3 separate regions of the Homo sapiens genome follow, and regions 2 and 3 are each linked to region 1. A link means that fine-mapping ties the variant in region 1 to the plasma level of a protein whose gene starts in the linked region. Region 1 holds a variant in brackets. A gene starts in each other region. All regions are shown on their reverse strands.

Region 1 (8,182 bases):
TAAGTGTCATAGGTATTCTCAGCTAAGGGGCAGTATTAATAATGGAAAGCAGACAGAGGAACCGTAACAGAGCCAAATGGAAGCAAGAAGGGTGGGAAACATAAAATGCGGAAACACAGATAATGATAAACGAGACCTGCACACTGAGGCTTGCGGCAGGAGCGTCCCAGGCTGGGGGCCTGTGTCACGGGTAAGAGGGGAAGTCAGGTGCAGAGGACCCCCGGGACGCCAGGTCCCCATTAGAAGCAACGGCCCAGATGTGCACAGAGGCAGGAAACTACTATGAGGTTCTGGTGCTGAGTGAACATAGAAACCCATCGAGGCCAAGAGTGAAATAGTCCTTATGTAGGTCAAGAGTACCAAACAGTACTGAGTGACAAGGAATAAGTGGATAAGCAAAACGTGGTCTACGCAGGCAAGGGAAGATGACTCAGCCTCGAAAAGGAAGGAGATTCTGACAGGTGCTACAACAGGGACAGACCTTGAGGACCTTATGCTGAGTGAAATAAGCCAGGCACAAAAGGACAAATACTCTGTGATTCCACGTATGTGAGGTGCCTGGAGTTGTCAAAATTATTGGGACAGAAAGTAGAATGGTGGGGGCCGGGCACGGTGGCTCACCCCTGTAATCCCAGCACTTCGGGAGGCCAAGGCCGGGGGATCACCTGAGGTCAGGAGTTCGAGACCAGCCTGACCAACATGGTGAAACCCCGTCTCTACTAAAAAGAATACAAAAATTAGCTGGGCCTGGGGGTGGGTGCCTGTAATCCCAGCTACTTGGGAGGCTGAGGCAGGAGAATTGCTTGAAGCTAGGAGGTGGAGGTTGCAGTGAGCTGAGACCGCACCATTGCACTCCAGCCTGGGCAACAAGAGCGAAACTCCGTCTCAAAAAAAAGGAAAGAAAGAAAGAGAAAGGAAGGAAGGAAGGGAAGGGAAGGGAAGGGAAGGGAAGGAAGGAAGGAAGGAAGGGAGGAAGGGAGGGAGGGCGAAAGAAAAAGAAAGAAAGAAAGAGAAAGAGAAAGAAAGAAGGAAAGAAAAAGAAAGGAAGGAAGATGGCTTTCAGGGGTTGAGCAGAGGTGGGATGAGGAGTTAGTGTTTAATGGCAACAAAGTTTCAGACTGAGAAGATGAAAAAGCTCTGAAGGTGGATAGCAGTGACGGTTGTACAACAGTGTGAATATACTTAATGCCACTGAACTGTACATATGAAAATATTTAAAATGGTAAATTTTATGTTACATATATTTTACCACAATAAAAATAAAATTAAAAAGGTTCAATCTAGTAAAGAAATAATTTTAGAAACCAAAATAGAATAGTGTGTCTTATACTGGGACACAAGCAAATAAAAGGACACACATTAAAATACTAGAACGCTGAGGGGGGAACGGGCACAAAAGAAAATTAAACTGGCGAAGGGGCCACGGGTCGCAGCATGTGGCAGGCAGTGCTCTCTGCCCACAGCCAGAATGCGGGATCAGGAGTGAGCAGCAAGCAGTGGGGTGACAGATGATCTCAGGGTAGCCCCCCAAGGCTGCAGGAGAGTCACCACCCCACAGCCTAGCCGGTGCCCCAGCACGCCCAACAGCCCTTCCAAACCCCCGGCTCCCAAGAATGCCCTGACAGCCGTCTGGGCTTCCCCTTCCCCTGTGTGGCCTCGTGGAGTAGAGTCCAAATCCCAGCTGCCCTGGACACGCGTCCCAGGCTGGCTGGCCCGTGGCCCATCGACACTGGGCTCATGCACACGGTAGGTGCTCTGAGAGGTTCTGTTGAGTGAGAATAAGTGACGGGAATTGAGAATGGGGAGACCTCTCCTAGCCGGGAGAAATGACACAATGCCGCTTTAGGGAAGCCCAGTGGATGATCCTTCAGATCCCCGGGGGGATAAACCTCACTTCCGATCTCAGGAGCATAGAAGTGGCCCTTTCTCTATTTTCAGTAACTGAACTCAGTTTTAATTTTAAGCGTCAATACCATCAGGTAACAAGGATTTAATCTCCACCTGGGCAGGGGCTCAGGCTTGCAGGCCAACCGGACCCTCTCTAAGCCGCCTTCTTCTCTGACCAATTCTCTGTGGCACGAGGCTCAGCCGGGGACACAGTGGCCCTGCAGTAACTGCGAGTATGCCTAGTCACCTGGCCAAGCATGAGGACCACTGCCGCAGGGAGCAGAGCAGGCCCTGCTGTGGCCTTCAGGACAGGAAAGGTGGAAAAGCCGTTTGTATACTGTGGCTAAACCCTGAGTGCGCGATACCCCTTCCAGGCTTGTAATCCACATTCCAGCCCACGGTGATTGACAGCTGGCACACAGCAGCACCCAGGGCGCCACCCGCCCTCCATGAGTGTGCTGCTGGTTTAATTGATGTGTGCAATTTTGGGGACCACTGAGTCCATCAGAATGCCAAGGAGGAAGGGGGTGGGAGGGACGGCAGGGCAGGGTGTGCCTTGCATGGGCAAAGAGGTCAGAAGTGAGCATTACATCAAGCAGGCCCGCGGCAGCTTTGAAGAGCACCGTCAGGGCAGGAGACAGTCCTCAAGCAGCAGCACAGGGCAGACCCTGACTGTGCGCACCAGGCTTCCCGCCTGCAAAGCACTTCTGGTTAATCATCAGAAAGGGAATATTGTAAAAGGGTATCAAGTGGCTCACAGACAACTCCCTGCTGAGTCACTGTGGGGAAGGGTCAGGAACCTGGAGGTGCCAAGTGGCCACAGCTATAGCCCCAAGACATGTGGCTAGGACACTGCTGGTGCTGAGCATGCACTAGCCACTGCTCTTCGCACCCAGGACACTGGGGCACTGCTCTGCCACCTGGGAATGGGGGGACGGACCCTGAAGTCTCCGTGCCTCCTGGGCATGTGGCTGCACAGCCCTGCTACCCCCCACCGGTGTCAGGGAGTGCACGTTCTTGGCCTTTTAGGCTTCTGTAGAGGGAAGCAGGGTTTTGCCTCCCACTAAGACGGTTCACTTCTCAAATGTTAAAAGGCTGTCCTGATGCTGCATAACCACAAAATAAAAAGCATCCAGAAGGCCAGGCGTGGTGGCTCACGCCCGTAATCCCAGCACTTCGGGAGGCCGAGGCGGGTGGATCACTTGAGGTCAGGAGTTCGTGACCAGCCTCGCCAACATAGTGAAACCCCATCTCCACTAAACATACAAAAATTAACCAGGCGTGGTGGCTAATGCCTGTAATCCCAGCTACTTGGGAGGCTGAAGCGGGAGACTCACTTGAACCTGGGAGGCAGGGGTTGCAGTGAGCCGAGATCACGCCACTGCACTCCAGCCTGGGTGGCAGAGCAAGACTCCATCTCAAAAAAAGCATCCACAAGAATGACCAAGTGACTGCTCAATGGCCATGGATGTTTCTGGACCCTGAGGGCCCCTGTTTTGCTGAGATGGAAATCATTGCTGACTCCTTTAATGTTGTTTAATTTTTTAAAAACCTCTTCAAGCATTCCTCTAGATTTCTGGTATTCAGAACTATGCTGTGAACACAGAAAGATTAAGGACTGTTCTTCTAATGCCTTAGACAGCCTGTGCCAATTGGTCTCAGAGTAGAGAAAAATATATTTATGCTGTGAAACCTAAATACCCAAACTAAATTCATTTTAGCAAAGATTAATACGCAGAGCCCCAATTCTTGTACAGATTCCTCAGAGCAGCACGTGCTGTTCGGCGCTTCTTCCTTTATAATAAATGGTCAGGTGTGCAAACAACTGTTTGAAGAGCCATTAGGAGTCAGTCAGCTGTGGTGTGGGCAGAGTGGGCAGTGGTATGCCAGGAAGCGCCCAGGGTTGCAGGTCTAGGGCATTGTGGAGACAGCAGCAGCATTCCTTGGTCCTGAGCTGGGATTCCGCATCCAGTTGGGCCCAAGCGTGATCTGTGTGTAGTTCCATGAGGCCTGGGTGGAGGGTGTTGGGAGTGATAGAATGTTTGGAAGGAAGTACAGGGGAGTGAGGCCTGATTCACCCAGGCTATGGGGCTGTGTGAAAATGGCCAGGCTCTTGAATGTTTGGCACATAGAGGAGAAAACTGTCATGAACAAGACTCATAGCCCCTGAAAATAGGCAGCTTGTCTTCTCTGCAAGACGGCCTGGCTGGTGTCCCTGCAAGCCCAAGTGTGAGCTGGGGGATTCGCAGGCAGGCTGGTGACACTTTCCATCAGTGGGAACCCCTCTACTTTCGAGCACCTGCCCCCGACTTCATGCAGGGAGTGCACGAGGAGTCTGCCTGGGACTGTGGATGGGCCTGAAGGACAGCCCAGCCTGGGACTGTGGGACGCAGCTGTCCAGCGAGGTGCTGGCTGGCCGGCCAGCAGCCACCACCCAGGCCCAGCTGCAGGGCTGGGTTTCCTGCAAACCGTGATTCTGGAGCAGGGTAGGTGACCCCGAACTGCCTGTTTACAGTTTTCATGCACCCTGGGGACACCGTGAGCCTCCCCAGCCCTGTGGCCTTGAGCTGCTGTATTCTAGAAATACCGGCAGCTGCCTGTCCCCTGAAGCCTCCCCACAGCTTTGAGCAATGATGAATATTGGTTAATCTCTCCTGTAAACAG[C/T]TGTTTTCCCGGCAACTGCCCAGCTCGTGTTAAATATTAACAAAGAGCCGCCTCCACAGCCGCTCACAGGGTGTCTGCTTTAAATATTTAAGAAATTGCTGTTCCTGTCCCTGAGTGACTCTTTGGCTCAAACTGTTCTGTAAGTGTTCTTGCCTCCCTGGTGACTGCGTTGTGTGAAATGTCCGACATCCCTGCTTGCTTGCTCTTTCTTCACCCATTGCTCTCTTTGTCTCTGTCCTTCCCTGTCTCTATCACTGTCTCTCTGTCTCTCTCTCTCTTAGTGAATAGTACTAAAAAATGTAAACGCTGAGGGTTGCACTCAGTCCTGGGTGCTCAGCCAAGCTGCCTGGAGATGCCCCAGGCAGGCTCCTGCTCCATCGAGATGCTGCGGAAAGCAAGTGGCCTTTAAGTGTTGCTGCCTCACACGCTCATGGTTAGGTGTGAATAGCTGGGGCACCCCACCCCTCGCCCCCATCTGGGGGTGTGTCTGCACACGTGTACTCAGGTGCCCAGAGGGTTGTGGAAATGCCGTGACCGTGTGTAAATCCTTTACATCTAAGTCCTTCTCACTGTTGGCACTTCCCATTCCCTTCAGGGTTTGTGGAAGACACGCCTGTTTTCTTCCCTGGGCTAACTGTGAAGCTCAGAAGAGGAAGAAGGGCCCGGATGGCAGATGAACCGCACAGGGCTGTGTGGCCTCAGCCCCGCAGCTGGGGAGCTCAGTGGCCTCCTGGAGGAGAAGCTGACTTTGGAGGACCTGGAACACCATGGCTGCTGGGAGTTGGGGCTGTGCGGGAGGCTTCTGTCTCTGTGTGGCGTTTGGTCATAACCACTGGACTTTGGAACATCCTGCTTAAAACCACAACTTTGGCTGGGCACGGTGGCTCATGCCTGTAATCCCAGCACTTTGTGAGGCTGAGGTGGGCGGATCGCTTGTGCTCAGGAGTTCAAGGCCAGCCTGGGCAACATGGCAAAACCCTGTCTCTACTAAAAATACAAAAATTAGCTGGGCATGGTGGCTCACACCTTGGGTGGCTGAGGCAGGAGAATCACTTGAATCCAGGAGTTGGAGTCTGCAGTGAGCCAAGATCACTCAACTGCACTCCAGCCTGGGCGACAGACTGAGACCCTGTCTCAAAGAAACAAAACAAAACAAAACAACAGCAAAAACCCCCACAACTTTACCTAGACTCATCTGTGAAAACTTCAGTGAATCCGGCCTCAAACTGTCGCTATGGGGGAGCCACTGGCAGCTGAGTTTGTTTAGATTCCTCCTTCCTGGGTGAGACCTGGGGTTGGAAACACCATTGAAATTCCCTCTAGTAATGGGCTCTGTCGTCCAGAGGAAGGGGCAAGACTCCCCCACCCCCACTTCTCACCCCTTGCCCGGGGTCTCTTCTCCCTTCCTGACCAGGAGCCTAAGGAAGGCCTCAGGTAGAAATAGAGAAGCATCTTCCTCCCTCTGGGGCCAGAGATTTCCAGCCGAGTTTTGTGAGACTCCAAGACTGCTGTGCGTATCCTCAGAGCTGCTGAGATCACCTCAAAACAAAGCCCGTTTAAAGTCACTTTCATTTATTTCAAGAGCTACTGTGAACCTCTCAGGATAAAATGAAAATGAACTTCAATTCACTTTAATTTTTAAAAGATATGTTCGTTTAATATCCTTTTTAAAATAAAAACAGGGAAAAAGACGTAGTGGTTTCAAGTTTGCAATTCCCATCCGGCCCAGGTGAGGCCACAGGGCCACCTCCCGTGAGAAGAGCGTGGCCTCAGGAGGGCAGGTGGCACAGTGCATGAGCCTGCGGCGAGTCTCGGGCTCTGCCTAGGGTCGGGGGAGGGGCTCTCTGCATCTCACTCTCCCCAGTTCTAAACGGAGAAAGTAGTAGTACCTGCCTTAGGGTGTTGGTAGAGAACTGACTTAGATCTTGCCGGTAAAACTCAGGGCCTGCAGGCGTGACCTTACAGCAGGTGGGCTACAGGCACAGTCCTGGCTACAAGCCGGGCAGCTGTCTTGTCCCAGGAGACCAGGAAAGCCTCCAAGACACCATGGGCCTATTGGTAGGGGACAAGTGGGCTTCCCTGCCAGGTGGCCTGGTGACAGGGTCATTAGCAGTTGAAAATTTTGAGAAAATGATTCTGTGAGCTGGAGGGCAATTGGACGGGTGAGGATGGAGGAGAAAGCCAAAATCCGCAACTCGGATCACTGTCAGGGCGAGGCTGGGAGTGGGGGAGCGGGGGATCCCTCCCCAGAGGAGCACAGGCTGCAAGCTGGTGGCCTGGAGGCCTGGGGGAGAGGAGCGCAGCCAGGGCAGGACTGTTGCTGGAAGTCTGTGGAGGAAGCTGCCTTGTCAGTCAGCCTCCCGACCCCAGGCACACAGCGATTACAACCTCATGCCAAAAAACAAAAACAAAAACAAAAACAATGCTCTTTTGAAAAGAAATTGAACAAACTACCAGACTGGGCCCCATCCTTAAACCTCATTTAATTTTTTTTTTTTTTTTTTTTTTTGAGACGGAGTCTCACTCTGTCACCCAGGCTGCAGTGCAGTGGCGTGATCTTGGCTCACTGCAACCTCGGCCTCCTGGATTCAAGCGATTCTCCTGCCTTAGCCTCCCGAGTAGCTGGGATTACAAGCATGTGCCAGCATGACTGGCTAATTTTAGTATTTTTAGTAGAAACGGGGTTTCGCCATGTTGGCCAGGCTGGTCTCAGACCCCTGACCTCAGGTGATCCTTCTGCCTCGGCCTCATAAAGTGCTAGGATTACAGGCATGAGCCACCACATCCAGCCTCATTTAACTTTAATTACCTTTAAGGGCCTTGTCTCCAAATACAGTTGCATTGGGGGGCAGGGCTTTGACATAAAAATCTGGAAGGACGCAAACATTCATTCCATAGCACTCAGAGAGCAGCAGCTACAGGAGGTCACTGACCCCCTATAGAACTGGAGAATGAAATGGAAAGTGAAGCTACGAGAGCTCATGAGCACGATTGCCCCTCATCCAGAAACCAGGAGTTACCCTCTGGCCGCTGCTACGGAGCCTAAACATCAACAGCTCCGCCACTATTGTGACACCCACCACCAATCTGCAGATTGCAGTCACTCTCAGCTGCCAGCTGCTCCCGGAGCTGGAGAAGGGGACATGCTTTCTCCCATGATCCAGCCTTCCAGCCTCCAGTGCCTCTCATTGGCCGGAAACTTGCATCAGGAGAAGCTGGGAATATAGTTCATAGGCTTCCAGCCCTGGCAGTTACAAATGGGAGTATGGAGTGACAAGTTAGAAGCTATGTCCACAGATAAATAAACAGCACAGATTGCAAGACAGAGAAGCGCAATCAAGAGGCAGTTATTCTTCGTCCATGAGAAAAATGAAAGGTAAATCAAACATGGGGGGGATATCAAAAAGTTGTCTGTGAAAGCCACAGTCTAATCATGAAAAAACTAAAAATATGTTATGGTTTTCTGTTTTGAGACGGAGTCTCGCTCTGTCACCCAGGCTGGAGTGCAGTGGCATGATCTTGGCTCACTGCAACCTCCACCTCCCAGGTTCAAGCAATTCTCCTGCCTCAGCCTCCTGAGTAGCTGGAACTACAGGCACCTGCCACCACGCCCGGCTAATTTTTTGTGTTT
Region 2 (8,160 bases), not on the chromosome of region 1:
GATCCATAGTTTCAACAATGTACCAAAAACCTCTGCTTGGGAAACCACTTTATTGTCTCTAGTACTTCTATGTTAAAATACTCAGAACTGGGCCGGGCGCGGTGGCTCATGCCTGTAATCCCAGCACTTTGGGAGGTCGAGGCTGGCAGATCACTTGAGGTCAGGAGTTTGAGACCAGCCTGGCCAACATGGTGAAACCCAATCTCTACTAAAAATACAAAAATTTAGCCGGGCATGGTGGCACGTGCCTGTAATCCCAGCTACTGGGGAGGCTGAGGTGTGAGAATTACTTGAACCCGGGAGGCGGAGGTTGCAGTGAGCCAAGATCGCACCACTCACCACTGCACTCCAGCCTGGGCGACAGAGCAAGACTCGGTCTCAAAAAAAAAAAAAAAAAAAAAAAAAAAAAAAAAGAAAAGAAAAGAAAAACAAAACAAAAAATATCCAGAACTGAACACCTTGCTCCATCCAAAGCCTCCCACGTCCTGTATCTCAAATACCCTTAACAATTCCACCATTGACTCAGCCTCCCAAATTAGACACCTGCTCTTCTACCTTGATGCCAAAGTCTTCTTTAAAAATTATAAATCATATTATATTACTCCCTACTTAACCTTACAGTGATTCATAATCACCTGCAAAAGTAGGTCCAAACTTCTTCCTGTAGATTGCATCCAAAGCCCAGAAGGGTCTGGTTTCTTCCTATATTTCAGATCGCCATTTTTTCCGCCTTTGATCCCTCCTTCCACCACTGTACCCCTATCCCCTCCAGTATTCCTCCAGCATACTAAGCCTGAACATGCCTTTCCTCCGTGTGTGACTGCTCAAACATCACTCCCTCTGTGAATCCTTTCCTGGATTTCTCCTCCTCCCCCTTTCTGTGTTGATTTTATAGTTTTTACACTTTTATCCTTCCATATTTCAAACAGTTTTGTAATGATTTCTTTTCATATCTGTGTGATAGATTTGAATCCTTGAGGAGAGGGAGTCTGCCATTTATTTGTCTTTCATCTTTATGTCTCTAGCTTCTAGCACAATGTCTGTCATTTAATGGGCATTCAGTACATAATAGATAGGTAATTGAATGAATGGATTTAGATGCCTGGGTGTTTTCTTTCTACTTGTATTCTATTCCCCACATCCTCTCCAAAGATTTCAGCATCATCAAGACATATTATCCTGTGTCTTCCTTCTGAAGATTTAAATTATAGTGATCACCAAATCCATGTTGATATGATAACAATGGTTAAGAAGTTTGAATATGTTATTTTCTCTAAGCAATACAGTTGTATATTAATCAGAATCTCCCAGAGAAAGCCCCTTAGAGCAGGCAGTTCCATAAAAGGAATGTCAGGAACTTCTGCAGGCTGGATGAGGACATACACTGAGTGAACAAGTCTGTCAACTGCTCTAAAGACACTGTCAATGCCATATAAAAGCTGGCCTTGTTCATCTAGCAGATCATGGGGGTGAGACAGTCCAGTGCCTCTCTGCCCCTACAATATATGAAGAAAGGGGAAGAAACACACATTGCCTCCTGGTAGATTAGGGGAGGACTTCTTGTACATTTTTAGCAAAATCCGAGTTCAGACCCAGCAATTAGACAAAAGGGTCAGCAAACTATGGTCGATGGGCTACATCTGCCCACTGCATGTTTTTGTAAATGAAGTTTTATTGGGACACAGCCATACCTATTCACTTTTGCATTATCTATGGCTGCTTTTGCACTTTGATGAAAGAGTTGAGTAGTTGAGACAGACACTGTTTGACCCACAAAATCTAAAATACATACTATCTAGCCCTTCCTAGCAAACATTTGCCAACCCCTAGAAAACTTTTAAAAAATGATGCTCTTCGACTTGAAATTTTTATAATCTTCTGTTTATTGTCAATAGGTGCTGCTGATTTTCAAAAAATGACTTAGAATCCTCAAATAAGTATACAGCCTTATATGCTGCTTAGACACCAAAGCTATGATAAGATTTGTCAGTTCTTTGTATCAGATGGGTTCAATTCTTGACATCAGCTAATGTTATAAAAATAACTACAAAATTGGTTGTAATAGAACCAAATCTAAGACTCTTTTTAATAAAAAAGATCACCATTGCTGGTGAGAAACCTATACTGAATGGGTGAGATGCCATTGCATTTATCTGAAGTTTCGTCTTTATAATCAATAATCATATACAATCCTAGTCAAGAAACTCATCTTACAGTCCTTGGGGATTGAACACTGTGAAAATAAACTTTTACTCTTCGGATGTGCTTGGATTTTGTTTTAAATTAAGAACTACAGAAATATATATCATTTCTAGTGGTAGAGGAAAATATTGCCACCCAGAACTTTCTGAATGTCTCTTTCTGCCCTAGGTCCATTTGTGATGAACACCAATGAAGAGATTTCTCAAGCTATTCTTGATTTCAGAAACGCAAAAAATGGGTTTGAAAGGGCCAAAACCTGGAAATCAAAGATTGGGAACTAGTGGAAAGCGGAAGAGCAGGTCTTGATGTGTCCTAGAATTTTGCCATTTCTGAGATTGAGCCATTGAAGGCATTCCATTTCTAAAGCTTATTTAGCCGGTGCTTCTAAAGAATTCCACACTAACGTGATAACATGGTTTTTGTAACAATAAATGTAGGATATTTCCTGGCACATGCAAATAAACCTAATCATTGTTTCTTTAAAAATCAGTGTTTTTCATTTGAGATACCTAAGTTACTAAGCTTCTGTTTAAAAAGTCGTTTTGTGTATGTTTGCCTTTTTTTGCATGTATGGATGGATGTTTTTATTATTTTTGTGCATGTGCAGGTTTTAAAAATCATATTTGATTGCTTTCTGTGTGTCATTGGCAGCAGATGCATGAGCATCTGAGGTCCCTTCTTAAGCAATCCCACTGAGATACAAAGGTCAAAGCTATGTGCTGGGGTTTCATGTTACAGGTTATCTGCTTTAAAATAACGGCAGCCCTGAACATTTGAGTCAGTTCTTAAAACTGCCCTGCTATTGGTAGGGACGCAACAGGATTACAGCCAAGACTTCTCTGCATTTTCTGCCAAAATCTGTGTCAGATTTAAGACACATGCTTCTGCAAGCTTCCATGAAGGTTGTGCAAAAAAGTTTCAATCCAGAGTTGGGTTCCAGCTTTCTGTAGCTGTAAGCATTGGTGGCCACACCACCTCCTTACAAAGCAACTAGAACCTGCGGCATACATTGGAGAGATTTTTTTAATTTTCTGGACATGAAGTAAATTTAGAGTGCTTTCTAATTTCAGGTAGAAGACATGTCCACCTTCTGATTATTTTTGGAGAACATTTTGATTTTTTTCATCTCTCTCTCCCCACCCCTAAGATTGTGCAAAAAAAGCGTACCTTGCCTAATTGAAATAATTTCATTGGATTTTGATCAGAACTGATTATTTGGTTTTCTGTGTGAAGTTTTGAGGTTTCAAACTTTCCTTCTGGAGAATGCCTTTTGAAACAATTTTCTCTAGCTGCCTGATGTCAACTGCTTAGTAATCAGTGGATATTGAAATATTCAAAATGTACAGAGAGTGGGTAGTGGTGAATGTTTTCATGATGTTGTACGTCCAGCTGGTGCAGGGCTCCAGTAATGAACATGGACCAGTGAAGGTAGGTGAGCTCAATTTTTAATGTGATGAAGTTCTTTTTATTGGCTCATACAGAGGACTTTCTTTGCCCTCACTATTTTTGAAACAATATAAAAATGCAGAACCATCCTAGTAGTGGACTGGACAGGATATATCCTGCATTTCTTGGTGACTGTTCTGTTTCTTAGTCTTATTAAACTTCTGGCCATGAGTATTTGAAAATGCTGGGGTGGGGGTTGGTTGTTTTTTGAAGTTATGGTAGAACATGAGCAGTCTGGAATCTTTTTGGATGGAGAAGTTTCTCCTCGGTTGCATATGCAGATGGCACAGTGGTTTTTTAATGAAACATTGATTTGTTTTTATGACTGATAACTTTGTGGGCCATTTATTTTCAGGTCTTTGTGAGCAGCAGAGGTTAGTTTATTCGTTTGGTAAATTGAAAATTGCAGTGCTTTCTATGAACATTTTCTATCTGCTTTTGCAAATTACCAATTGCTGCCATCCAGAAAAATGTTTTCTCAGAGAGTGTTTGGTTTTTTCGCTTCTTGAAAGGTGTAAAATTCAACACTAATCAAATCTTTGGTTCTGTGAGCAAGCATCAAATAGAGCTTAACGAACAGAGAGTAATGCAAAAAATTAACCAGAATGTTGCTGACTGCTGGAACAATACTTAGCCCAATTTTATGCATTTCATGGATTATATATATTTTAAGCTTCTATTTTGAAAATGATTCGGATGTAATTGTTTTGACTGAAGTGGTGCTAAATCATTATTGATTTAGGAACTTCTGGCCTTGAAAAGACAATTAAATGTGAGTTTGAGTTTTTGTAGCTGTTGTTTAGGACGTGCATTTTCAACAGGGGTGATATCGCCCCCAGCAGGGGAAAATTGGTTCGTGGAGGGATGAAAAAGTTTTACCCTTTTGATACATCACGCACAGACGTACATACAGTACATATGGTATGTAGTTTAAAATACGTTATACATTCAAATTGCATAGGGGGAAAGTGTCTTCAAAGGCTCCTGGCTGGTGTTGGTGGCCTGGCGAGGGTGGGGGCTGATATTTAAAAATGTTGAACACTGAGCTGGAGGTGAGTGGGAAGTCACCTTGTCTGGCAGCCAGCACTTTTCTAACTTCTCAAATTCCAAATTTACATGGGAGAAATCACAGTGTTTGGCTCCATTTTACTGCCACCAGCCTTGATATTGGATCTCAAGGCCAGATTGTAGGTAAATGGGAATCTGACTGTAAGCATAGGTAACAGGAGAAAACGGTCTGACTTGTTTGAAGCAAGTAAGACTTTTCCGACTGTCCAGCTTTTTCGTAAGTTCATGAAACAGAAATCCTTTAGATGTGCTGGGCTCCTCGAGTTTTAAAATATTTCCATTTTCCTTGTAAAACATCACTTTATCTGATGGTATAATAAAGGAGACTGAATTGTTGGACATAAGTCATATTCTTTAGGTTGCTCAGCTCTTTCAAAGAGCACAAGCACCAAGAATGTCTCAGGTGTCCTGGGCACTGTGAAGTTTTATTTATTTATTTATTTATTTATTTGAGACGGAGTCTCACTCTGTCACCCAGGCTGGAGTGTAGTGATGCAATCTCAGCTCGCTGCAACCTCTGCCTCCCGGGTTCAAGTGATTCCCCTGCCTCAGCCTCTCGAGTAGCTGGAATTATAGGCACGTGCCACCATGCCGGGCTAATTTTTTGTATTTTTAGTAGAGACAGGGTTTCACTGTGTTAGCCAGGATGGTCTCGATCTCCTGACCTGATGATCTGCCCGCCTTGGCCTCCCATAGTGCTGGGATTACAGGCGTGAGCCACCGCGCCCGGCTGGCACTGTGAAGTTTTAAATGCTTTGAATGTACTGTTAATATATAAATTTGTTGAATGGAGTAACGAAGGAAAGCAGCTGAATTTGCATGTGACAGAAAACAAGTTGTTACACGTGGAGGATGCAGCATTATATACTTACTAATACGATTAGCAATTTTTTTTCAGAATATATCAGAATTTCCTTTAAAAAGTGAAGCTACATATACTGAACTTATATCCACCCTACCCCTCGCTCAATTAAATTATTTCTGATATGAAGGAAAGGATTGCCTATAGCTAAACAGAAGTTTTGGCATAGATATGACTGAGTGGTAAGGGATAATGAGATATATAATATTGGTTATAGTTTTCTTTTTTCCCCAACTTTTAAGAAAAGAAAATCTAAGAGGAAATAATGTTTCTAAATGTTAAAGTTCTTCTTGTTAAAATTAAAATGTAGTGTGAAAACATATTCATGGTGGTAATGGTTTAGGGTGGTGGTATTTGAATTTTTTGTTTTTTTTTTTTTACTTTTTGAAATAAAATGTTTTATTTATTATAAGAAATTCATGGTCTTCCTCGGTACTTGGTCCATATGTATTTCTTTCTCCTCACCCTCCCCTCTTCTAACCACCTCTTTTCCAGAATGGATGGTGATGCCAATTTTGCTCCTAGGTTGTCCTCCAGCCACCCCCAGCCCAGTTTTCACTTTCTAGCTTTGAAGATTGTCCAGTTTTCCAGCTTAGACTAGCATTGCCTCTACGATAGTTCTAGGTATCTGTGAAGATTTTTTTTTTTCCTGTAGCAATCATGAAATAGCTACTAGTGCTCTGGACGATTGTGCTTAATGCCATTTGGGTGTAAGGCCTCCTAATTTCATTAGTCTTACCACTTGTGTTTGCAAGGATAGCTGTTTGGAGTCAGCAGTGCATGGAACATGTGAACTGAGACAAATCTGTTTGAAAATCTCAACTTAAGATTTCAAATCCACTGTGTATACTATTTAGCTGTTAAGTTTCTCAGTCTAAGAAGAACACGTTTTCCTCTAGAAATAAGCTTAACCCAGTACCTATGCATCGTTCATTAATATAATCAGATTACGGCCTAGATGTGGAATTTATTTCTGTTTCTATTTTCTCCAGCTTTTTAATACAGCTCAGACAGTCATATACAGTTGTACACGATGTGCACTGCACAACTCTAGGGTGCTCCATGCATATAGACATATCTGTATGTGACAGCCCTAAGTACAATGTGGTAGACACTCTGGACATTTGGTAAATAAGTATCTACATCCTCACTCTTCTCTCATTCACATTGGCCTTCTGGCCAGCACTATTTCTGGTTTATTTAATAAACAATTCTTGTCCCCCAGAAATTCTGTGAGTCTTCTGAAGATGCTGGGGAAAGCCAGCCTTCATAAATCTTTTCAATGTCACTAATGAAGACATGTCACTATTGCAACAAAGGAATACCAGGCCATAGTAGGCTTTCACAACTTTTTTCTGACAGAATTTGTTTCTTTCTGCTTTATCTTCCCTGTGTACTGTCTTTTTTTATCCACCCTCTTTCTTAATTACACTGGTAGAAGAATATTGGTGGGTGATGGAGTCATTCACATTCTGTGTAAGACTAGAATCAGTCCAAGATCCACAGGAATGTGGGATACTTCTTTCATGAGAAGCCACATGGCTCACAAGACTTCTTTACATTTGTGTTACTTGCCTTCTCCTGAAATTGTCTCTACAGTGAATCAAATAACAAGGACTGAGGTGTATTTTCCATATTTAATTCCAGGAAGCAGTCCCACTCCTTCTCCCTGCCCGATTTCCAGTTCCAAAGTCATGTACAGGGAAGTCCATTGACTTTGATGTTGGTCAAATGGCCCAGCAAGCTTTTGTCCACTTTTCTGTCAGACACAGTCCTTGGCACAAAAGACATCTGAAATACTTCCCATTAATTTCTTCTTTATTTATGACCTTGTAGTTAAGTGTGTTGAATTATATGCTTCTATACACATCTGTTTTAATCCAGTTACTCACTTATAACTGGTGACTGAAACTTTTATATCACTATAGCGTATTATTGGTACCCAGGATACAATAGAATCCTCAATATCTTACATCTTCAATATAGTACTTCCTTGTATGACTTATTTCTTAACATAAAAATCCTGTTTTAGACCTGTGGATAAACCTTTACTATAAATCCCAGAGACAATTTCTGGAATGAGAATATAGTATTTGTCCACACACATGATTCCATGTAGAACTTGAGGTAATAAGATCTGGGACTCCCAGATACATTTATTATTACCACAATTGGATAGAGGTGCTACAGAAATAGGCACACAAATGACAGTAAAATTGTTTCTGAGAACATTTCTAGGCTCAACTTTTTTCTACAACTTAGGATGAACAGAGAGAGTGGAAACTGTATATAATTGGGAATGTGACTGAGATGAGACAAAGATGACATGGAAGCATTTCTTCTTCCCTTGCTTTTCTGGTGGTAAGTTCACTCTTCTGTCTTCCTTGCCACTAGTTCTTGCAGTCCCTACCAAGACACTAGGGCATTATACAGCAAACACACCCTGAGGCCCCCTGCTACTGCATCATGAAAGCCTTAGCTGGTTGTGATGTCCTAGTTCATAAAGAATCTGCCTAGTCTCTCATTAGAGCTTTCCAATATTTGACAATTCATTCATTTATTTTTTTCAACAGGTATTTATT
Region 3 (8,163 bases), not on the chromosome of region 1:
TGGGAAGGGCGAGCCGGGGCCCGGGGGCCAGCGTGGTGGGCGCGAGGGAGCCACACAGCGCCGCGCCGCACGGACACACAACACGCTCGGTGACACCGGGGACACACAACACGGGCGAGCGGCCGCGGCTGGAGCAACAAAGGAGCCGAGGACCGAGAAGTTGCGGGCCGGAGAGGGAGGGCGCGTGCGGGCGTGTTGTGGCTGTGGCGGGCGTGAGGGTGTGCGCGCCGTGTGTGCGCGTGTGTGTCTTTTCTGTGTGTGTTTGTGTGTCTCTGTGTGTGTGTCTGTGCGCGCGCGCGGCGGCTGACACCGGCGGGCCGGGGCTCAGGGTCCCCGCGGCAGAAAGCGGCGGCCGCGGGGGCGGCAGCAGGAGGACAACGCAGGGGACGCCGCGCCCAGCGCACCCGGTCCCTCCATATGGAAGAAGCTTTTTGGATGACTGAACTCGCAAACAATTCCTTCTTTTGCTTCTCCTGCCTAGGAGCCTCCCATTACCGTGCGAGGAGGAGGAGGAGGAGGGAGTGGAGGAGGCTGGGAGGAGGGGGAGGAGCAAAATGGAGCAAAGAAAAAGTCTTGGAAAGGAAGCTGGAAAAAGTCCCCCAAACTCTAGGGCAGTTTTCCCGTTAACACCCACTTTTTGCTGTGCCTCAGACCCGCGCTCTCCTCCAACTTCTTTTGCTTTCCCATACCAAAAGCACCATCTTCTCCCTTTTCCCCGAACCCAGGGGGCTCCCCTGAAGCCTTCACTTTCTCTTTAGCTTCACCTCGCACCCTTGCTCTTCCATGTACAATCCTTCCCTCCTTTCGCCTAGTCTCTTCCAAGACTTTCCTGACACCCACCTCTCAATGGTCTTCTTCTTCTGCAAGACAAACTGTTGGATAAATCATTAAAAGCAAACTCATCAGAAAATGGGACAGCGGCGGTGGAGAAAATGATAAGGAAACCAATCTCAGGGAAGCCTTAACGCAGCCTCCCCCGACCCCCTCGGTCGGTTGGGGAGGGTTTGCCGCGTCGTCCATTGACAGCGCCCTGACCTCCATTCATCATCCCAGGATGGAGCCAGGGAGGAATGGGGAGGGAGAGCTGGGGCTGGGGTTGGGGGCATGGGTTGGGGGTGCTAGTGGCCACGGAAAAGTTAGTTACCTATGCGTGTGTATGTGTACGCGCACGCGCGCGTGTGTGTTGGTCAGAAAACTTTCAGAGCTGTGGTTCTCAAACTTGATCTGCAGCAGGACTCCCTGGAAGGCTTGCTAAATCCCTTTGCTGGGCCCCACCTCCAGAGTTTCTGATTCAGTAGGTGGACCTGGGAATTTGCATTTCAAATAGGTTCCCAGGTGATGCTGATGCTGCAGGTCAGGGGCCACGTTTTAAAAACTACCTTTCCAGGGCAGTGAGAAGGCAAATGTTGAGTTGGTGGCAAATTGGATTCCCTTCTTATTTTTTAGGAATGAAGCACAGGTTGTGAGCGGTCATCCATTCCGTATCTTCATTGCAGCTGAGAAAACCAAGTCCCAGCAGGGCTAAGCCATTTGTTTAAAGTGAACTGGGAGTTTGTGCCAAGCTGGTGAGGAAGCTGTCCTGGAAATAAGACAGCCAGGCTAGTAGTAGGGTGAATGGGGGTGCTGCCTTCCCTGTGTGGCTGGACAGCTGCACTGGGAGTCAGGAAGCCACTGTGACTTTGGAAAGTCACTTAACTTTTCTGGGCCTCTGGGGGTTTTGTGTGTGTGTGTGTGTGTGTGTGTGTGTGTGTGTGTGTGTGTGTGTGTGTTTGTTTGTTTGTTTGTTTTTTGACAGAGTCTCACTCTGTCGCCCAGGCTAGAGTGTAGTGGTGCAATCTCGGCTCACTGCAAAGTCTGCCTCCTGAATTCGAGAGATTCTCCAGTGTCAGCCTCCCAAGCAGCTGGGATTACAAGCACCTGCCACCATGCGCGGCTAATTTTTGTATTTTTAGTAGAGACGGAGTTTCACCATGTTGTCCAGGCTGGTCTTGAACACCTAGCCTCAAGTGATCTGCCCACCTTGGCCTCCCAAAGTGCTAAAATTACAGGCGTGAGCCACCTCACCCGGCCCTGTTTTGTTTTTTATTAACTTGTTTCTTGTCAGTAAACATACATACTTTACACTGAGTATAGGACTCTAATTGAATCTGAACCAAAAGACCTTTACAAAGGAAACATAAATGTATTTTATTCCATATTTTGCACTATTTTTTCTCCGGTATTTAGTCATTCAGGCAGAAGCCAATTTCCTTTTTGATTTATCGAGTACTTTCAGCTCTGTGCCTGGATTCTTAGGCATGTTCCTCTGGCAAAATGGATCTGGAGGATGATGCATTTTCAGCAAGAAGGTGAAAAGGACTCTGAACTCTCTCTGTGCATTATCCACCTACATTTCCTTTTCCTACTTAATCATCCTAATTTTCCTTCCCTTTTAATCTCTAACAATCTCCCCCAACATTCTCAAAGACCTATTTTTCTTTCCAGTCATTGACTATATTAGCTTCCACTTTCTTTTGTCCTCCTTCCAAGGCACAATTCTGGACTACAAGGCCTGGGGTCCACCCTGGGTACAGAACTTTTAATTCCCCCAAGGGAATGGGTCAACCAGCTTCCTCTGCAGTGATAACACTCCTTCTCCCCAGGGACCCAAGCAGCGTATCCAGCCTTCTGTTTTTCAAAGATGATTCCAAGTACCGCTCAATGAGAACGTGATGCATGAAGGTCTCAGATTCATTCTTTTATATTCCTGTATATACTATTCGTTGCTTGACATCTCAAAGATATCTTCTACCCCTTCTGTCATCTTTCTCCTAGGACTCTCCATTCTCTTACTCTGGTCTTTGGGTCCACACAGCCCTAGGCTCTGAGTTAAGCATCAGAACACAACAGAACACAAAGAATGTAACAGTCCCTACCAGCACCATTTAGTCAGGAGAATGACACACTGCCTTGTTCCTTCATGCATGCAGGCTGCTCACCTTTCTTTCTTTCCTTTTTTTTTTAAGATGGAGTCTGGCTCTCTCACCCAGGCTGGAGTGCGGTGGCATGATCTCAGCTCACTGCAACCTCCACCTCCCCGATTCAAGCGATTCTCCCTGCCTCAGCCTCCCGTGTAGCTGGGATTACAGGTGCCTGCCACCACGCCAGGCTAATTTTTTTTTTTTAAGTAGAGACGGGGTTTCACCATGTTGGACAGGCTGGTCTCGAACTCCTGACCTCAGGTGATCAGCCCGCCTCAGCCTCCCAAAGTGCTGGGGTTACAGGCATGAGCCACTGCTCCCGGCCTGCTGCTCACCTTTCTTATAGTTTAGGCAGAATGCAGATCACAGCTTAATAAAGAGGACTTAATTCTGCTGGCGGCATCAAGCACACTGTTGGTACCTCAGATATGTTTATTGTTTTTATTGCTCTTTGTATTAATGTGATTGTGTTTATTACTACTAGTCCTGTAAGAACAACGTATCTGAATTTTCTCCCCACTCCATTTTGCCTGGAGGGTATTTCTTGCCTAATTCCCTCCTCCCCTTTCAATTAGTTTCTCTATCTTAACCCACCCCAACCCATTCCAGCATCTCTAGCCATTTCAAAACAGTTAGGTGGAGTCTGGATCTTGTAAGGTGCTTTTTGCTACTGTCCGTTCTGTTGATGGTGATTTACCTCTAGCACCTTGCTTTCTTGGAAATGTTATGGGCCTCCACCAAGAAGGAAGCATTTGGTATGGAAGTGATCATCACATTAATTTAAATGCTTGGTCGGGGGAAGGAGTGGGGAGGTGAGTAGGGATTGTAGGTCTATATAAGTCACTATGTTGCTAGGCTGTGCAGAATAAACTGGAAGGAATTCAGTGAATGACATGAAAAGACGTGGTTTCCTCTCAGTGTGCTGTAGATACTCTACCTGTATCATATAAACAGGGATCTCTTTGACTGTGAAAGATATCTGGAGAGGATTATGCTGAGAAAATTATTAAGATGTAGACAAGAAAGAAGGACTTGATGATGTTTTCCTCTGTTTTAATATAAATCTGCTTTCCTGATTATAAAATATGTGCACTGACAAAAATTTAGAAAATGTAGAAAAACACATAAAAGAAGAAAATCAACTTAAAGTTACTACCCAGGGATAACATTGTTATTAACATAGTGGAGTGTTTTTTCTAGTCATTTTTCTTTCTTGTTTTTGTTTCTCATCAATACAAATAAACACGTTATCGACACTGAGTATATGATTCTAATTGAATCAGAATTGAAAGACATTTAAAGGGAAACATAATTGGGGTGAGTTTATTCAATATTTTATACAATTTTTAATGCATCTGGTAATTCAGGCAGGAGCCAGCTTCTTCATTGATTTATCTGGTACTTTCATATTTTACAAATTTGGGTTCATTGTACATACAGGTTATCATGCTTTTAAATTTAACATTTTAATGATTATTTTCCCCATATGTAATCTTCAAAATTTGACTTAACTGCTGTGTACTATCCCATCAAAGAGAGAGATTGTTATTTATTCAACCATTCTTCTATTGTTACATATTTAGATCGTTTCCATTTTTATTATCATCCTGTATTGCAGTTGACTAAACATCTAGCTATAAATCTTTTTGTTCTGATTATTTCCTAAGGGTAAATTCATGTAAGTAGGAGTTTGGGATCAATGGATAGGATATAACATTTTAAATGCTTTTAGTTGGTATTACAAAATTGTCCTCCAGTGGTTCCAATGTACATTTCCATCTCTCAGATTATTTTAATTAAAAACAACAATGAGATCATCAAACACAAGGTCCCAAGTGAAGACTTGATTGAATTATCTAGTCTGAATGATTACACTGAACAATAAAGAAAACAACTGCCAAATATTCACTTTAGTGGAAACAACACTCCAATGGGAAGAGCTGGGCACTAATTGCTTACCCTATGAACTGCATCATATTTATGATTTTATTTAACCTTTTCAACAAGCCTCTGAGAAATAAGCTAATGTTTATTGAGCACCTTCCTCTCCCAGTTTCTCTCCTGGATTCTGTGTGTACCTTCCATCTTGAATCCCCATAATGACCTTGTGCTATATAGGTGCAATTATCTCCATTTTATAGATAAGGAAAATTAAATAACATGCCTGAGATCCCCAACAACTAAATGGTGGTAAGAATTCCAAACCCAAGATTTTTCCAGTGAAACACACTACTTCACAACTATTTCATGAATTGCAGGCTACTTCTTGCAGTAAAAAAAAACTGTTTAGAAAATGCCCAAATTTTGTCTAGCCATTAAGAAGTATTTTATGGGCTTTCCAAGGAGTGTTTTTCTTTTTTCGAAAGAGACATTCAAGTGCATTCCAAGAACTAAGGTAACTTACTAATTGTAACTAATGTAAGAGTCTAAGGATATTATATACAGGAAGAGAATGGAGTTCTGATGTATGGGTTAAGATTAAAAATGACATACCGGCCAGGTGCGGTGACTCACGCCTGTAACCCCAGCACTTTGGGAGGCTGAGGGGGGCGGATCACGAGGTCAGGAGTTTTGAGACCAGCCTGACCAACATGGTGAAACCCCATCTCTACTAAAAATGCAAAAATTAGCCAGGCGTGGTGGCGCATGCCTATAATCCCTGCTACTCAGGAGGCTGAGGCAGAAGAGTCGCTTGAACCCGGGAGGCGGGAGGTTGCAGTGGGTTGAGATCGTGCCACTGCACTCCAGCCTGGGCAATAGAGCGAGACTCCATCTCAAAAACAAAAAAAAAACAAATAAACGAGATACCAAAATTCACAGTTTTAACAATATTAGTAAATTGGCTTTTGTACACATAACTATTCTCAAAAGCTTATATTTGGATAAAGACATTTTATCTTGATAAATGATACTGGAAATGAGATATTCATGAACCCAACTTTCTGCTTTAAAATTCAAGCTGTTGAGTGTATAAAGTGTCTATTTATTAAGGCAATATCTCAGTACAATTTCAAGATGCATAACATAATCCATTAATTTATAATTAGGAAAATTAGCCCTCATTTGCTCTTGACTGGACCATTAACTAGTTATCTGAGTTGGCTTACCGTTCTATGCTGGGTATTGCAAGGGCTGCTGGAGAAGAAATATGCCCAGTTGCTCTAAAATATTTGTTGACTGAAGGAAGAATGATGAATGAAAGTATAAGATTGACCTATGCAACAATTAGTAGAAACAATGCAAGACAGCGTATAATTAAACCCTAAATTGCATGGTTCAGGCAGAACTACAGGTGAGCCTGGTATGATGCCATCTATTCCTTATACAAGTTGAACTGGCTGGGACTGACTTCTCTAGCCCCAGGCTGTCAACTCAGGCATTCCTACTGGCTATATGTTCCGTTGACTTTTAGGAATTAATCACCAGATCCCCACAAGGCTCCCTATGGACAAGTGTACCCCAGGGGGAGAATGATATTTTATTTATTTATTTAGAGACAGGGTCTCACTCTGTCTTCCAGGCTGGAGTGCAGTGGTGTGATCTTGGCTCACTGCAACCTCTGCCTCAGCCACCTGAGTAGCTGGGATTACAGGCGCACACCACCATGCCCAGTTGATTTTTTTTTTTTTTTTGACAGTGTCTTGCTCTGTCACCCAGGCTGGAGTGCAGTTGTGTGATCTCGGCTCACTGCAAGCTCCGCCTCCCGGTTCACGCCATTCTCCTGCCTCAGCCTCTGGAGTAGCTGGGACTACAGGTGCCTGCTACCAGGCCGGCTAATTTTTTGTATTTTTAGTAGAGACAGTGTTTCTCCAAGTTGGCCTGGCTGGTCTCGAACTCCTGGGCTCAACTGGTCCACCTGCCTCGTCCTCCGAAAGTGCTAGGACTACAGGCGTGAGCCATTGTGCTTGGCCGAGGATGAGATTTTTAAAAAAAGAATATTGTGGCATCAAGACAAACCTGGGTTTGAATCCAGTCTTAAATAAGCTGCATGAGCTTAGACAAATTAATTACATCCCTAAACCCTAGTTTCTGTGAATATTGGAAATAATATATATGTACTATTTCTCTCTCTATATATACACATATATATGTATACACATATATATACACATACACATATATATATGTGTATATATGTATATATAAACCCTTGGTAGGCACTCAATAAATGGAGGGAAAATTAGTAAAAGTTTGAGTGAGAGGTGAAGCTGGGTTAGAGAAATGAAAAATAGAATAGTCCAAGGCCACTTCTGTGTGCTTGATTTTGCAAAGCCCTAGACAAATAGAATCTATTGACACTGAATTCCACGTGAGACCACTTTTCCAAGATATCAGATTCTCTAAAGCAAGCACAGCCCCCTTTCGTCCTCCATGACACCCCCACCTTCCTCATCTCCCGCCATCTGTTCTTCCCCCATCCCTTCACTTGTTAGGCTGAGACAGTTGGATTCTGGTGCTGCCCAGACTCCAGCTGTTTGACATTGTGCAGTGACGGCAGCAAAGAGGGCAGGGGCGCAAGATTCCAGATGAAAGCAAAAACTCAAAGAGAACTGGATCTCAGAGCTTTGATACTAAACTCAGTGGATAACAGCCTCCGTTAAATTTGTTCAGTCAGCCATTTAAGGGGGAAGAAGTTTCTCACACATCTTGTAAGGGTTTTTAGCAATGAGATGCTTCCATGGAGGGGAATCCATATTCTGGGGACTGAGCTGGGCAGAATCTAATGCCAAAGCTGCCACTGCAAGCTTTGAGGCAGGTATTATGCCATCTTGTTTTGTTCTACATGTGTTATTTTCTTTCTCCTTCATAAGATACCTGCGATTCTCTGAGACTTTTGGCCACAGCATCAGGAAACCTAACTATGCCTGACCCTACTCCACCTTACCCCACTTCTTCAAGTCCTCCACTCACAAGCAGAATTTAACAGGGAGGCCCAAGCTGCTCTGCAGTTCTGGTCATGGAGGGAAGGTTGACCGGCCTCCCTGGACAGTGGTTGGAAGCTCTCTGTGGACCTGCAGGCAGAGCCATGAGGAAGGGAGAGGAATTGACAAGAATATAGATTCTGGGGCTGGTGGTGTTGTAGAAGCCTCCCTGCCACCTCTCTCATTGAGAATCAGAAAACAGCTGTATATTCTTTGCCTTTTATTTGTTGAATTCATCAACTAGAAAATGGAATTGTTAGAGGCTTGGTGGTCCCAATACC

Direction of the effects. Alleles are on the strand shown, and positions count from the first base shown. The strength of an association depends on the size of the effect and on how common the allele is.
In carriers of allele T in region 1, the plasma level of the protein whose gene starts at base 3,074 in region 2 tends to be lower than with C alone (weak association).
With allele T in place of C in region 1, the plasma level of the protein whose gene starts at base 441 in region 3 is lower (weak association).

What was found. A credible set is the group of variants that fine-mapping cannot tell apart. PIP is the posterior inclusion probability: the model's chance that the variant is causal. Protein levels are from antibody-based Olink assays in UK Biobank. Linkage for the fine-mapping came from a reference panel and not from the study's own genotypes, which makes the PIPs less certain.
Region 2: it holds the start of VEGFD, and the variant in region 1 is the best candidate, but not a certain one, in a credible set for the plasma level of the VEGFD protein (UK Biobank, PIP 0.66).
Region 3: it holds the start of BOC, and the variant in region 1 is the best candidate, but not a certain one, in a credible set for the plasma level of the BOC protein (UK Biobank, PIP 0.61).

The regions. Positions count from the first base shown.
Region 1 is chr15:101,524,825-101,533,006 of GRCh38, reverse strand. It overlaps LOC124903567 (a long non-coding RNA gene), which reads left to right and starts at 4,633. Exons shown (of 2, transcript XR_007064784.1): 1 at 4,633-4,690; 2 at 5,147-6,242. RefSeq lists an enhancer at 2,030-2,688. The variant C/T (reference allele first, on the strand shown) is at 4,552.
Region 2 is chrX:15,379,327-15,387,486 of GRCh38, reverse strand. It overlaps VEGFD (vascular endothelial growth factor D), which reads left to right and starts at 3,074. Exons shown (of 7, transcript NM_004469.5): 1 at 3,074-3,630. The coding sequence starts at 3,541. PIR (pirin) reads left to right here. Exons shown (of 10, transcript NM_001018109.3): 10 at 2,371-2,688. The coding sequence ends at 2,483. All of the region lies in intron 9 of PIR-FIGF (PIR-FIGF readthrough), which reads left to right.
Region 3 is chr3:113,203,835-113,211,997 of GRCh38, reverse strand. BOC (BOC cell adhesion associated, oncogene regulated) reads right to left here and starts at 441. Exons shown (of 20, transcript NM_001378074.1): 1 at 1-441. LOC124909486 reads left to right here. Exons shown (of 2, transcript XM_047449436.1): 2 at 1-4,601. The coding sequence ends at 443. RefSeq lists an enhancer at 1-80.